3 separate regions of the Homo sapiens genome follow, and all the other regions are linked to region 1. The links come from fine-mapping of genetic effects on gene expression. A gene starts in region 1. Each other region holds a variant in brackets. All regions are shown on one strand. Distances are between the middles of the regions. Region 1 holds the start of GAS2 (growth arrest specific 2). Region 2 holds the start of SVIP (small VCP interacting protein). Region 3 overlaps GAS2 (growth arrest specific 2).

What was found.
Region 2: its variant is fine-mapped to the expression of GAS2 in subcutaneous fat (GTEx, PIP above 0.99).
Region 3: its variant is fine-mapped to the expression of GAS2 in ovary (GTEx, PIP 0.97).

The regions. Positions count from the first base shown.
Region 1 is chr11:22,664,604-22,668,781 of GRCh38, reverse strand. GAS2 (growth arrest specific 2) reads right to left here and starts at 2,171. Exons shown (of 8, transcript NM_001143830.3): 1 at 1,883-2,171. RefSeq lists a silencer at 1,932-2,091.
Region 2 is chr11:22,827,602-22,831,882 of GRCh38, reverse strand. It overlaps SVIP (small VCP interacting protein), which reads left to right and starts at 2,082. Exons shown (of 4, transcript NM_148893.3): 1 at 2,082-2,188; 2 at 4,009-4,059. The coding sequence starts at 2,135. LINC02718 (long intergenic non-protein coding RNA 2718) reads right to left here and starts at 2,469. Exons shown (of 11, transcript NR_187210.1): 1 at 2,272-2,469. RefSeq lists a silencer at 1,958-2,027 and an enhancer at 2,178-2,487. The variant G/A (reference allele first, on the strand shown) is at 2,257.
Region 3 is chr11:22,810,309-22,814,589 of GRCh38, reverse strand. GAS2 (growth arrest specific 2) reads right to left here. Exons shown (of 8, transcript NM_001143830.3): 8 at 1,589-2,792. The coding sequence ends at 2,574. Among named protein-coding and RNA genes, the nearest start is that of LINC02718, 17 kb to the left of the region's middle. The variant G/A (reference allele first, on the strand shown) is at 1,947.

The DNA of each region.
Region 1 (4,178 bases):
GCCTTCTCAACCAAGGTAACTTAGTTTTCCAAAGTTTCCCTGAGTCTTCAATGCAGACTTCCAGTCTTGAAGTAAGATTTCTAAGTAACACACAACATACTTAGGGTTAATATAAGACCAGGTATTTCACCATACTCGAAAGTTTGAGGTTTAACTGAAGTTTCTAACCAAGATGCTAAAAAATTCCAGGGCAATCACATGACCTTTTGCACCTGGTGAAATATTTTTTTGCCATGTGAACTTATTTCCCAGTAAAGCACAGTCCATAACACCACAGCATAGTGTTTAGCAATAAAGTAATGAAATAAACCCAAACTTCAGTAGCATTCAGGCTGAAATCCAAGCTACCTTTTCCATGTAAGGGACCATTCAGGCAGCCCTGTGCAAAGTCTCCAATGTGCTTTGCAAAGGCACACTGTCCCATGCCTCATCCATCTGTCCCTTACCTTCTCTTAGGCAGTCAAAACCCAGACACCCATGTTGGAGAGAACCACCAGAGCCACCACCTTCACCGCAGTTAGAGGAAAGCATTCCTTGAGAAGGAGTTCATTGATCAATATCAAAGACAGGCTGGGCAAATCAGACCCCAGCTGCAGTTAATCAGTGTCCACACTGCTAAGAGTTTGGAGTAAAGAAGCACAGGTCTTGTTCTCTGCCTTGCCTCTGTGAATCTCAGGGGATACGTGGGGAGGAAAAGTGGACTTCCTCTGCCAGGCTGGTACATCCAAACTGTCTAAGCCTTTATTTTAATACTAGGATGTCAAATGGGTGTTCCTGTGCACAAGCAGATCTTATTTCCTTGGCATAAGATCTCTCATACACAACTGATCTAACCTTGTTGGAGAGGGTTGGAGGAGATAATTTTATAAGAATAAAGTTTTGCAAACTCTTCACTGTAAGAAGATCACGGAGGTGAGAGGATGAAGATGAAGAAGATGGAGAGGGTAAAGACTGTGATTTCAAAAAGGTTAACTGGGAAAAGAATTAACAACCCTCCCCCAACCTCAATTGTTTTTAGAATGTAGAAACAGAATCTGTTAACCCTCGCTTTTGCTCCCTCTTCATTCAAGACAATGGAAACTTCTTCGGATACCTGGGCTAAGTTAATGGTAATTTACCATACTGAGTTGACAGAATTTAATTTTGCCAGTATAAATAATGTCTCCAAAGCAAAATTGCCTCCTTTGTTCCCCAAACAATTTCAGATTCCAGTCTCAACTTTGGACTGAACAAAAAGAACGATACCACGCAAAATCTCCCCAAAGTGTGTTGATATATATCGGCTAGCGTTTGTTTATTCACATAAAACTCAATTTCATCAAACTCATCAGACACAGTGAGTATCACCCCAGATCACACATGTGGCGCTCTTTCCTCCCATCCTGGCCTCAACGACTCAAGTAAAACATTCAGGATCAGCCCTTTAAGACCATTCTGGCTCTATCCCACCCCACCATAACAGACAATGCTGAGCATGCATTACAGATACTCTTGTGCACGAATGCATATGTGTGCATTTATAATCGATGTGTTCATTAAAAATCCTCACTCTGTCCCTGGTTGGCAGAGCCACCCCAGCGGGCTTACGTGCTGCGGTTGTCCGGGGTGTTCCGCAATAGGGATAAGGAACACATGGTTGTTTCCAGAGAATCAGAAAGTCACCCCCTGCAGTGAATACCCACTCTTAGAGAAAGAGCCTGTCCAACTGTCCGCGGCTCTTCACTCTTCCCCGCCTCGTTCCTGAGGTTATTTTTTAATGACCTCTCCCCTCCCCCGCCGCCCCGGGTGCAGTAGACAGGCAGGGGCTCCCGTGAGCCCCGGCTGCGGTGCGCGCACGCTGCGGCGGCGTTGGCGCAGAACTGGGCCAGCCAGTCGTGCTCACCCCCGCGTCCCGAGCTGGGCTGCTGGCGGCTCTCAGAGGCGCTTGGGCTCCGGGCTGGGCTCCTGCAGCTTCTCGGGGCCGGCCCCCTCCAGGCACAGGTCCTGCAGCAGCCGCTCCCCGCACCCCACCAGCCTGGCGGCAGCGGCAGCAGCTACAGCCGCACTACCCCTCTTCATACTTCTCTGATGGCTCCTTTTAGTGCTGTTTGGGAAAACGATTTTTTCTCCCTGCCAGAAACAGATTTCCTACATTTCATCAGTCCTCATAGACCGAGCGGAAGTAAAATGCTTACTTTTTTTGGTGGACGCAAATGCAGTTGACACTGATTTACCCTTCAAACGGGGAGAGATTGTATTACAAGCCCTTGGCAGCAATTCCGAGGTTGGGGCCAAGCTCCAGCCCCCTCCTTGTCCCCCAGACACTAACCTAAGAGAGAAAAGGTGGGGGCTGGGGAGGGGATCATATTTAACTCTAGAGGTTTAACAGAGTCAATAGCTTTAGCACAATATTAAAATTGGGTGTTGGAAAAGTTTTTGCTTTCCTGGCCAGTGATTTTGCAGACGGAGGCACGAGCTTTCCAGTAACTTCGGCCACTCTTCATTCCAAATTGAACATTTTGATGTCTTACAATTCTCTTTAAATATCAGATTTTTAGAAGAGGCTGTACTCACGGCTGTTTTTGCTTTACCAAAGGAAATACAATTCCACCCTTCCTTCTTTCAGCCTCAGCTCAGCATTATGTTGAATGTCAGAGACAATTGTCTCCAACTGTTGTTTATTAGTACGTGTATTCTGAGATGAAACGTCTTCCATGAAGTGGACAGATGTTCAAGTGTCTGATTCACCTCTAATGCGCGGGGACCGCTTGCTGAGTGTGCTGATCCCCACAGGTTACCACCTCCCATGGAGCATAAATAAAATGTATTACACTTTTTATTTTGTTTTGTTCTCATGTTCATCAGTTTCATGTATATTGCCATCCAATGTTTACAATGGCAGTGGTACAGGTATTGTGATCCTTGCTTGGATACCATTTTTATAATGATGAGTTACCTAGCCCCACTCCCAAATAGAAACTACCTGTACATCCACAAGCTAAATGATGTGGATGATTTTAGATATAATTTAAAAAATATTCACATTTCACCTTTATTATTGCCATTATCTGGCAGAAACTGCATCAGTTATTTGCTTCTAGTGGCAATACATTTAATAAAGAAGAAGAGAAAACCGATTGAAAAGTTTGGAGTCCTTGAACTCCGAACTTTTTATTTTAGTTCAATTTGCTTTTGCAGCTATCAGGTCCACATTTCCTCCTTAGCTTTCTAAAAGAAGGGAAAAATAGTTATTCTTAATTTTAAGGAGAAACAGCATTTTTAAAAGGTCAACATAACAGCTTGGATAAACATAAATAACAACAAAACATACAGAACTCATTACTGATGAGTTTTAGTAAACGAATCTGAATGATAAAATTTCTTAAAATGTGATCAGATCTGAGTATTCCTAGAGCCCCAACAAAGAATTTTGAGTGTCTGAACACATACAATTTAGTAAAAAATCAAATGTTCTTGATAATTTTTCCTGATCAAAACATCATCAGCCAATAAATGCTAATTTAAGAATTATCCAAATATGTAATGAGTTCAAAAAATTTAGCACCTTGAACTTTCAAAATCTTACATCCTATTTCTCCCCAGATATGAATATTCTTGTCACATTGTTCATTATTGGTGTTATAAAAAGCTAAGAGTAAGGCAATGTTTTTGTTGATTCAGGAACAATGCTAAATACAGTTTGGGGAAAAAAAGGAGGCTTACAGAGGAATTGGGAAAGCATAATCATTCAAAATTACTCCCTCTCCATGCTCATTTCTTCCAGGTATTTTTTTTTTTGTCTTAAATTTTGCATTATGTCAGATCCTCTGTCTCTCAGAAAGAGCGAAAAGAAAAATACGAGAAGAAATAAATAATGTGTTTTTTCTTTCATTAACATCTAAGAGTTGTACTGAATATTTTTTTTGGTGACAAAAGAGAAGTAATACAAAAGATTTCTGAAGAGACACGGATACAGTGTTTTTATTTTAATTTTTTTAGCATATGTAAAAATTCCCATTTGATTTTTATCTTGTTTTTCAAAATCAATATTTCTATTTATATATTCTGATCACTCACTGATATATTTGTCAAAGATAATCTTTTGTCTAAGTATTTTCTTAGTTTAGTGTGGACTCAACCCAAACTGTTCACCTTAGGAAAATGTAGTCCAACTGAAGCAACTATAGCTTCTCTAATGT
Region 2 (4,281 bases), 160 kb before region 1:
AAAAGAAATCTAAAGGAAAGAATAACACTTGTATCTCTTGACAAGCAGAAAGCTCCATCTTGAAGCCAAGTGCCTAGACAGTAAACTACCATGAAGACGGGGAGACAGGTGCCACTCTGGGATGTTTTCATTTCTAAGAGAAAGCCAATAGGCCTCCAAAGATATTCTGAGGATACAAAACTGGCAAGAGGCTTATTTAGGTTCTTTCTTTCTGATGCAAAACTGGCAAGAGGCTTATTTAGCCTCCCCTGCCCTCCCCTCCCCTCCCCTCCCCTCCTCTCTTTCTTTTCTTTCGACGCAATCTCTCTCTGTTGTGCAGGCTGGAGTGCAGTGGCGCGAGCTCGGCTCACTGCAACCTCCGCCTCCCGGGTTCAAACGATTCTCCCTGCTCAGCCTCCGGAGTAGCTGGGATTACAGGCGCCCACCACCATGCCTGGCGAAGTTTTGTATTTTTAATAGAGAAAGGGTTTCCCCACGTTGGTCAGGCTGGTCTTAAACTCCTGACCTCAGGTGATCCACCCACCTTGGCCTCCAAAAGTACAGGAGTAAGCCACCATGCCTGGCCTTTTTTTTTTTTTCATACATTTCAGTGAGACAGAGATAGCGCTTACAATTTCACGTTTTCTAAACACAATGCTAAAGAGGAGGTGGGTAGTTATCTTTCTCTTTTTGCAACAGAGAACCTTCACTTTTTCTTTATATATTTTTATTTACCCTTAGAAACGGCCCATGCAATCGAATAATAGTATTAAAAAAGCATCATCCCCTATTATTTAAGGAATAAACTACTGTTTCATTCAATAACATGGAAGAATTTAGAAAATATTATGGCTTTTGCAAAACATATTGTATATTTCATTTATGTAAAACTTAAAGACTATAGTGATATTAACATTTATGCAAAACTTAAAGACTAAAGTGATATTAAACAAATTAATAGTTTCCTGGATCTAGGTATAGGATAAAGTATTGAATGGGATTGGGTACAATAGAAGGTTTTTGGGTGATGGAAAACTTACATATCTTGAATGTGGTGATCACATGTTTGTTAAAACTCAGTGAACTCTACAATCAAAATAAGTGCATAATATTATATGTAAATTATACATCTATAAAAAATTAACCAGCAAGTATATCAAAAAGCCGACAATGGTTTCTGAGACGCTGTCACTATACATCCTACCTTTTTGTAATGTTTGAAAATTTTTACATAAGCAGAAATAACTAATAGAATGCAAAAATAAAATAAAATAAAATAAAAGCATTTGTGTGGAGACGAGATCAGTAACTTTAGTATCACCTGTGGGTTTACTGGAAATGAATCTCAGGTCCCACCTTATACTTACTAAATCAGCAAGTAAATTTTAACTAGTTGCCCAGCTGATTCTCATACTTATTAAAATTTGAGGAGAATCATTAAAACATTTCTCAGTAGATGAAACTTTATTATTTCTCTCGGAAGGATAAATGACTTCTAAATACCAGAAACTAGTGGAAATGTCAACTAATGCCACATTTATGACGCTAGATTCATCGTCATAATAATGGATTTTATATTCTGCCCTCTGTTCTGGAATAGCACTGTCACTAAGAAGGGAGAAAAGGGTGCTGATGTTTACTTGGAATTTTGGCTTTAATTTCTAGGACACCAGAGTCCCATCTCATAAAAAAAGGTAGCATGAACTACCCAGAGCTGTACCACTCATTCATTTATAAATGGTAAGGCAAGGTTAGCAGGAAGAGCTTTGGAACCGTAGCGAAGCTTTTCCATCCCTTCCCTGCATTGCTACCCACAGCAGGTGTTTCCTGGAACCTAGGCTTTGGCCACAAGCCCAGCGGTCGCGGGGCGGGGGTAGGCGGAGCTGTGGGTGAGGAAGGGGCAATGCCTTAAGGGGGCGCAGCTGAGCTGTGGGACTGGTTGGTGTCGCGAGAAGAGGGGGGCGTTGCCGCAGAGAGGCGAGGCGGGGCAGAGCTGCGGGGTGGGGGCGGGGCGTTGCCGCTGGGGCGGAGCCGAGCCAGTGGAGGGCGGTGGGGGCGGGGCAAGCGCGGAGGACCAGGGACCGGCTCCGGACCGCGCAGTTAGCGCCGCCTGGCCTGGGCCGGACCCGGTCAGGGTTCTCAAGCTGTCGTCCCTATGGGGCTGTGTTTTCCTTGTCCCGGGGAGTCCGCGCCTCCCACGCCGGACCTGGTGAGTAGAGCAGGTCCCTGCGTCCGCCGGGCCGCGCCTTGAGCACCTGTCCTCGGGTTGCGGGGCGG[G/A]CCGAGCCATTGTACCTGGTGGCGCAGGTCGAGAGCCCGCTGGGGGACCCTGCTAGCGAGGACGGGTGGACGCGTCAGGAGGGTCGTTGGGTCCTGTCAGAGCGACCTAGGCCGTCGCCTCCGTGTAGATCTCCACTTTTGTAACAAAAAGTTGTCGAAAGGCGGCTGTGGCGTCTTTCTACCTTCCACTGACTTTAGCTGCGCCGGATCTTCATAGGGCGCCGGCGCACGCAGAGGGCGTTACGCGTGGGACATTCCGGGGGATGTGGTAGATGGAATTCGGCGCGAAAAGACATTGCTTTCTCCGGGAGCTCTTTAGTCGTCTAGGAGATGTGCGTTTTCAACTGTGTCTACCATCTTTTAAAAGAAGGTGCTCGGAAAGTCGCTTATACGCCTGAGCTTTATCGGATATGTTTTTTTAATGATTTCTTTTTAGTATTTATCTCATTCTTTTACGTTCTCCCTTTAAAAGAATATGTAGTACAGAGTGTCCAATTTATAATGTCGTATTTAATAAAAATACTGGACACCCAGTTACATTCGAATTTCAGATATACAAGGAATACGTTTATAATATCGTTTTGTGCCATGCAATATTAGGGATCTAGTTCTACAAAAACATTACTCATTGCTTATCTGAAATTCAAATGTAGCTAGTGGGTGTGTGGTACAATACATGTACACTTTTTGTAGCTTTCTGTTAACAGTATCTTTACATTAGTACTCCTTACAGGGAGTTAACATAAACCTGTTTCTCTTCTCTAGCTAAAAATTAGTTGAAGAAAATGAAGTATTTTTGGGAAGTACATTAACTCTTCAGCTACTATAGATACTAAAAATTTAGTACTTATAAATTTGATGTGGGAAAGTTCAGCTTCTCTTTGTTGCTGCTGTTGTTTTAAATTAAGTTGATTTTGTTGTTCTGGCTGTCGATAAAATATAACATGTCAGATTTGTTAAGCCCTCCCCCCCATCCTCATACTATACCCTCTTCCCTTGATAACCACACGGCTCACTGCTTGGATGTCACTTTACCAGTGAAGCTTTTGCTGACCACGTTAAACAAAATATATTCCCCACAATACCACCCACCCATTCTCCCATTACTTATCTGCCATGCCATCTGACAGACGTTTACTTACTTCATTATATTTGTCTGTGCGCCCGCAATTGGAATTTGTTTCATTTGGGAGGAGACATTTATCTATGTTTTTACACTGTTGTATCCCAGCACCTAGAAAAAGGGCTTTATAATAAGTAGTACATGGTCTAGAAAAATAGCATTCACTGTTTTCTGATATGGAACAATACCTCTCATGAAATTACTCCAGTCCTTCCCTCCTACACACTGAGATTAGCCCACTTCATTTATTAACCTTTCCTAAAAACACCAGGTTACTTCAGACTCCATTTTAACCGGCAGTAACAAACCATGTATTTTCCTTTTTGTATTTGTAAACATTATTTGTTTTGTTATTGCCCTGACTAGCTTGTAGGCCTTTTTATTAAAAAAGAGAGTAAATAAATGATTATATAGGTAAACCTTGTATCTGTTTTAGCATGTGCTGATTTGAAGGCATATTGATTAGGAGAATGAAATTCAAAAAGTTGAGTAGTGGCATTCTTTGTGGGACATTTAGGGCCAGTACCGAATATTTTTGTAAATTGTTATAGTGCCTATGAAATAAATGTGAATAATTTATTAATAATAATGTTTGTTATTTTAATACATATTTTTACACATTTATTTAGGAAGAGAAAAGAGCAAAGCTTGCAGAGGCTGCAGAGAGAAGACAAAAAGAGGTAAGATTAAAGATCAAGTTTTGCCTACTTAGATAATTGAGTTTGGACTTTATTCTTCATAGATGTCCATAGCTAGATTTTCTAACGCAAATGGCCTTTGATATCCCAAAAATTTACATTTAAATGTAATTATTTTCAAAATGATTTCCTTATTTATATGAATTGCATTAATATATTTATATTAATATATGAAAACTATCATATCTTCTCTAAATTCAGATA
Region 3 (4,281 bases), 150 kb before region 1:
CTCACTGTGGCCTTTTTACTATTTACTTGAACTTCTGGTTTGAGATGTTTCCACTCTGTTTGCAACCAGATTTCTAGACTATTTAGACTTTTTAATCCTTTATTCATTGGCTATTGGACCCATCTCTCCATTGTCCTTCTTTGGATCTTACATCTAGCTGAGAATAAGGTGACATTAACCTACTTGGTCTATGTCCTGGCCAGTCTTCAATAAGGAGTTGAGGAGTAAGAGGCTGAATATAGTCTCAGTTTTTTTCACATCCCTGGTTGGTGCCGATTGACTAGCAGCTAGACTCCAGTGCCAGTTGTGACCATGTTTTCAGTGACACTTAAAAGACCATCTTAGATGTGGTATGGGTATCATAATCCTTCCCTCCCTGCCAAACATGTTCATGTCCTAATCCCTGGAAGCTGTGAATATGTTGTTACATGGCAAAGTCGATTCTTTAGATGTGCTCAAGTTAGTGACCTTAAAATAGATTATCCAGGTAGATCCAAGCTAATCATGTGATTGTTAAAAGCAGAAAACCTTTCCAACCTATGAGAGAAAGAGATGTGAAGAAAGAAGACGGGTCATAGAGATGCTACATTGCTGATTTTGAAGATGGAGGAAGGAAATCATGGAGCTTAGGAATGCAGGTGGCCTCTAGAAGATGGAAAAGGAAAGGAAATGGATGCTCCCCTAGACTCTTCAGGAAGGAAAACAGCCTTGGTGACACTCTGATTTTAGCCTATTGAAACCATGTTGAATGACTGCAGAAATGTGAGATAATAAACATGCTTATTCAGCTACCAAGTTTGTGGCAATTTAATGCAGCAATAGATAACTACTAATGCAAAAGATAAAGAGGTTAATATTACTTTTGTTAAGCTACACTTCTTTAATGAAGTTGACTATTATCTTTAATTTTTGTTTTAGAGACAGGCAGTGGAATTATATTATTAAGGATATAAATACGCTTATGGAACAAATTTAGGCACAGGAGAAAATGTTGATGGAAATATTGTCATTAACTATACAAAGAAACTCAGTGTCAGTATTAGGTAATTTAAAGATCTTAATCTTTATCACTCAACATTATATTTTAAAATATATTAGAATTATTCACTGCACCAAGGTGACTATCTCATACAACATCTCAGGGTTTTTTTTTTAATCGATTTATTTTTTTTAGGTTTCACTGACTTTCTCTCCCCCAAATGATTATCATCACTTCCAGCACTACAAAATTATGCCATGCATGTTATTTAAGAACTTCTCAATTAACACATTATGTATATTTTGACTAAATTTGTCATGTGACAAATATTCTTCCTTCCTGACTTTTTGGAGCAAGAAAGGTGGATTCTTTTGTTGATGTTGAAAAATGAATACATGAAAAATTAATTTTCTATCCTTTTTATACTGAGAGCAGCACTTATAATAAAACCTGAACTCTCTGCTAAGGAAAACTAACACCACCATCACTCATCTCCCAAAGTGAAGAAGTGCCAGGGAGCCCTAATTTGATTCTTCTTATAACTGTTGGAGAAAGTTGCCATTTGAAAATTAACTTGATTTCAGAATGAGGCATTGATTTAGAGACAGATAACATTTTTAAAATTTATCCTTTTAATTCTTGAATGAGTAAGGACAATATTTTGCTGTTTATTGGTATAAAACAGCCCTGTCCCAGGTATACAAGGGTATACGTAAGTCTGTAACATCATTAGCTACAGTGAATTTACTTTACTAGAAAGCATAGCAAAATAGGATTAACTAAAGATATATTTTTAATAAGAAAATGCTTTGAAATAACATGAAATCAATGAACATTTGACTGTACAATTTACTCGTCAAAGTATCAACGTATGTCAGCTCATGTATGAATTACACTAGATCATTCTAAACACAGCCATGTGCTCAGGAATGTGTGAAATAACTCATAAGCTATTCTCTAAGGGGGT[G/A]TACTGAAAACTTCTAAAAGTACCCCAGATATTTGGTCATAGATAAGAGATATACTTTAAGGCAGCCTTCCAAGTGAATGTAAACTTTTCGGAAGTGGCCTTTCCAGTAACATATTACTATTGTGAATACTCTGTACTTATGTGTAGTGCTGTTGGATATTTTTTGCAGCACATTATCACACTAATCATCATTTTGTAAAAAAAAAAAAAAAAAAGCATAAAAATCTTGCAATTATAAAAATGTCTGGAGTGCTTTTACTCATGAGTGTAAAGCAGGCACTTTCTGTTGACTTATCTGCAAATCCTAAATGTTTTCTCCTTATTTATCTTTAGTTAGAATTGTGTTTCTAATATTGTGTTCTAAATACTGTGTTCGCATATTGAGAAATAATAATTTGCCTAAAATTTGGATAATTTAAATTTGAGTTTAGATTTTCTTTTAATAGGTCATATTCTACAGAAGCATTAAAAATAAATAGTGCTACTCTTTGAACATTTTTCAATATGATGACATTTTTCTGTCTATCTTTCTCCAAAACAGTTTTCAGAACATATGAACTAAACTGACTATACTGGAGAAGTGGATACAGGCCATTATGAGGGTCCCCTTGTCATGACCAATTTGTTTCACTTAATTTCCTTCTTAGCCTTATAACTGGCAGAGACCACCAAGTAGTTATCTGGATTCATGTCCTTTAGAGTTGGAGATTTGCTTTGGATAGGGGATGTTTTGCCATCCACACGGGAGATCTGCAGCATTCGGCAGGGGTCGTGTTTCAACAAATACCCTGCAAAAGTTTCCCAGCCTCCTCCCACACGGACCATGACATGTTTGTTGTGCAGCATCTGAAATGAAAAAATATCAAAAGTGTTAAATTCCGAGAATTCTTACAGTACCTTGAATCAACCCCTGGTTCTAGTGAAATTAGTGTTTTGGTTTGTATTTCATGACCCATTGTTTTTCTACTTGGTGCAAAATGTCTGAGTTAGCATATAGTCTATGAAAGAAGTCCTGTTTTTTTTCTGTGGAAGTGATAAGAATAAACATCTCCAGAACCCAGCTTTGCTGTGCTATGGGAACCAGCACCTACGTATAATTCTTTGGTTTAATGTGTCTGGAGGCTTCTCTCTGACATCTGATCTTCTATTACAGTTCTTATTACTGCCTCTGGTTCCTGCCTACTGACTCAGCTTAGTGCTCCATTTTTCCCAGTGGGTTATTCCCCTCTGAATCAGGATTTTAAGGACCATGGAAATGTCTGCTACTGAATTACAATGCTAAGAGTCAGACAAATACTCAATACAAAATAACATTGAAAGTGCACTAAAAAAATTATTGGAGTTTTCCCCAGTCATTGTCTGAGCCCTTGAAGGCAAGGTGTTTTTGAATAGGCAAACATTTATGTTTTTCTTTATTCTTTTTCTTCCTAATTATCGTAGAATATGTCTTTTAAAACAAACAACTTACCCCTAGGCCCAGGAGCCATCTAGAGCTCCAACTTAACAAGGTTATTGATTTAAATGTGAAGAATGCATGATTCTTTGTATCTAGTAAAATATATCATGGAGGTTTGACATGGAAAACCAAATAATTTGTCATCGGCTTCTTGCAAATATCAGAAAATTTAATATTAAGAGGTAATGTTGCATGATCATCAAAGACCCTGCTGACTCCCTCTCCTGCCCAAAATGTTATGGATACATACGGGCACTGTAATGTTGGGAAGAGGATGTGATTGTGAGAGAAAGTCTGGGAAGTCACATCATAGAGCCTATAAAATCTGTTTCAATTCTTCTTACTTGGCGTCAGCTTGAGATCTAGACTTTTTTTTTTGACTCCCAGCCAGTGGGAGATGACTTGTATTCTTACCACTTGTTCTTACCACTTTCATGTAGGTTTTGATAAAGGTTTTGGACCTGCTTTCTATATGCCTGTATCTAAAATTTCTCCATGTGTATTTGGGGGTTTCACAGAACTTCATTTATGTGGTTGACATGAAGCAGTTTTCAAAATCAAATATTGTACCAACTAATAAAAATTTAATGAAAAATAGTAATTAAAGCTATTTGATTTATAAGAATTAAATGTATTTCTACTGGTTATTCTCATTTAGAGTATGAGAAATTTAGAACAGAAAGTGAAACCAGCACTACTGTCCCATAGAAATGATGTTTGTGGTTTCTTTTGAATAAATATAGAAATTGACCCTCCCAGTCTTAAAATTTGGGAAAATTACAGTTGTCTTATTTGAGTTCCCTTCTCAGGAAACCAACCATCAGGCCTCCCAGATAGTATCAAGGAGCTGAAACTTACCAGAACACCGCATCTGGACAA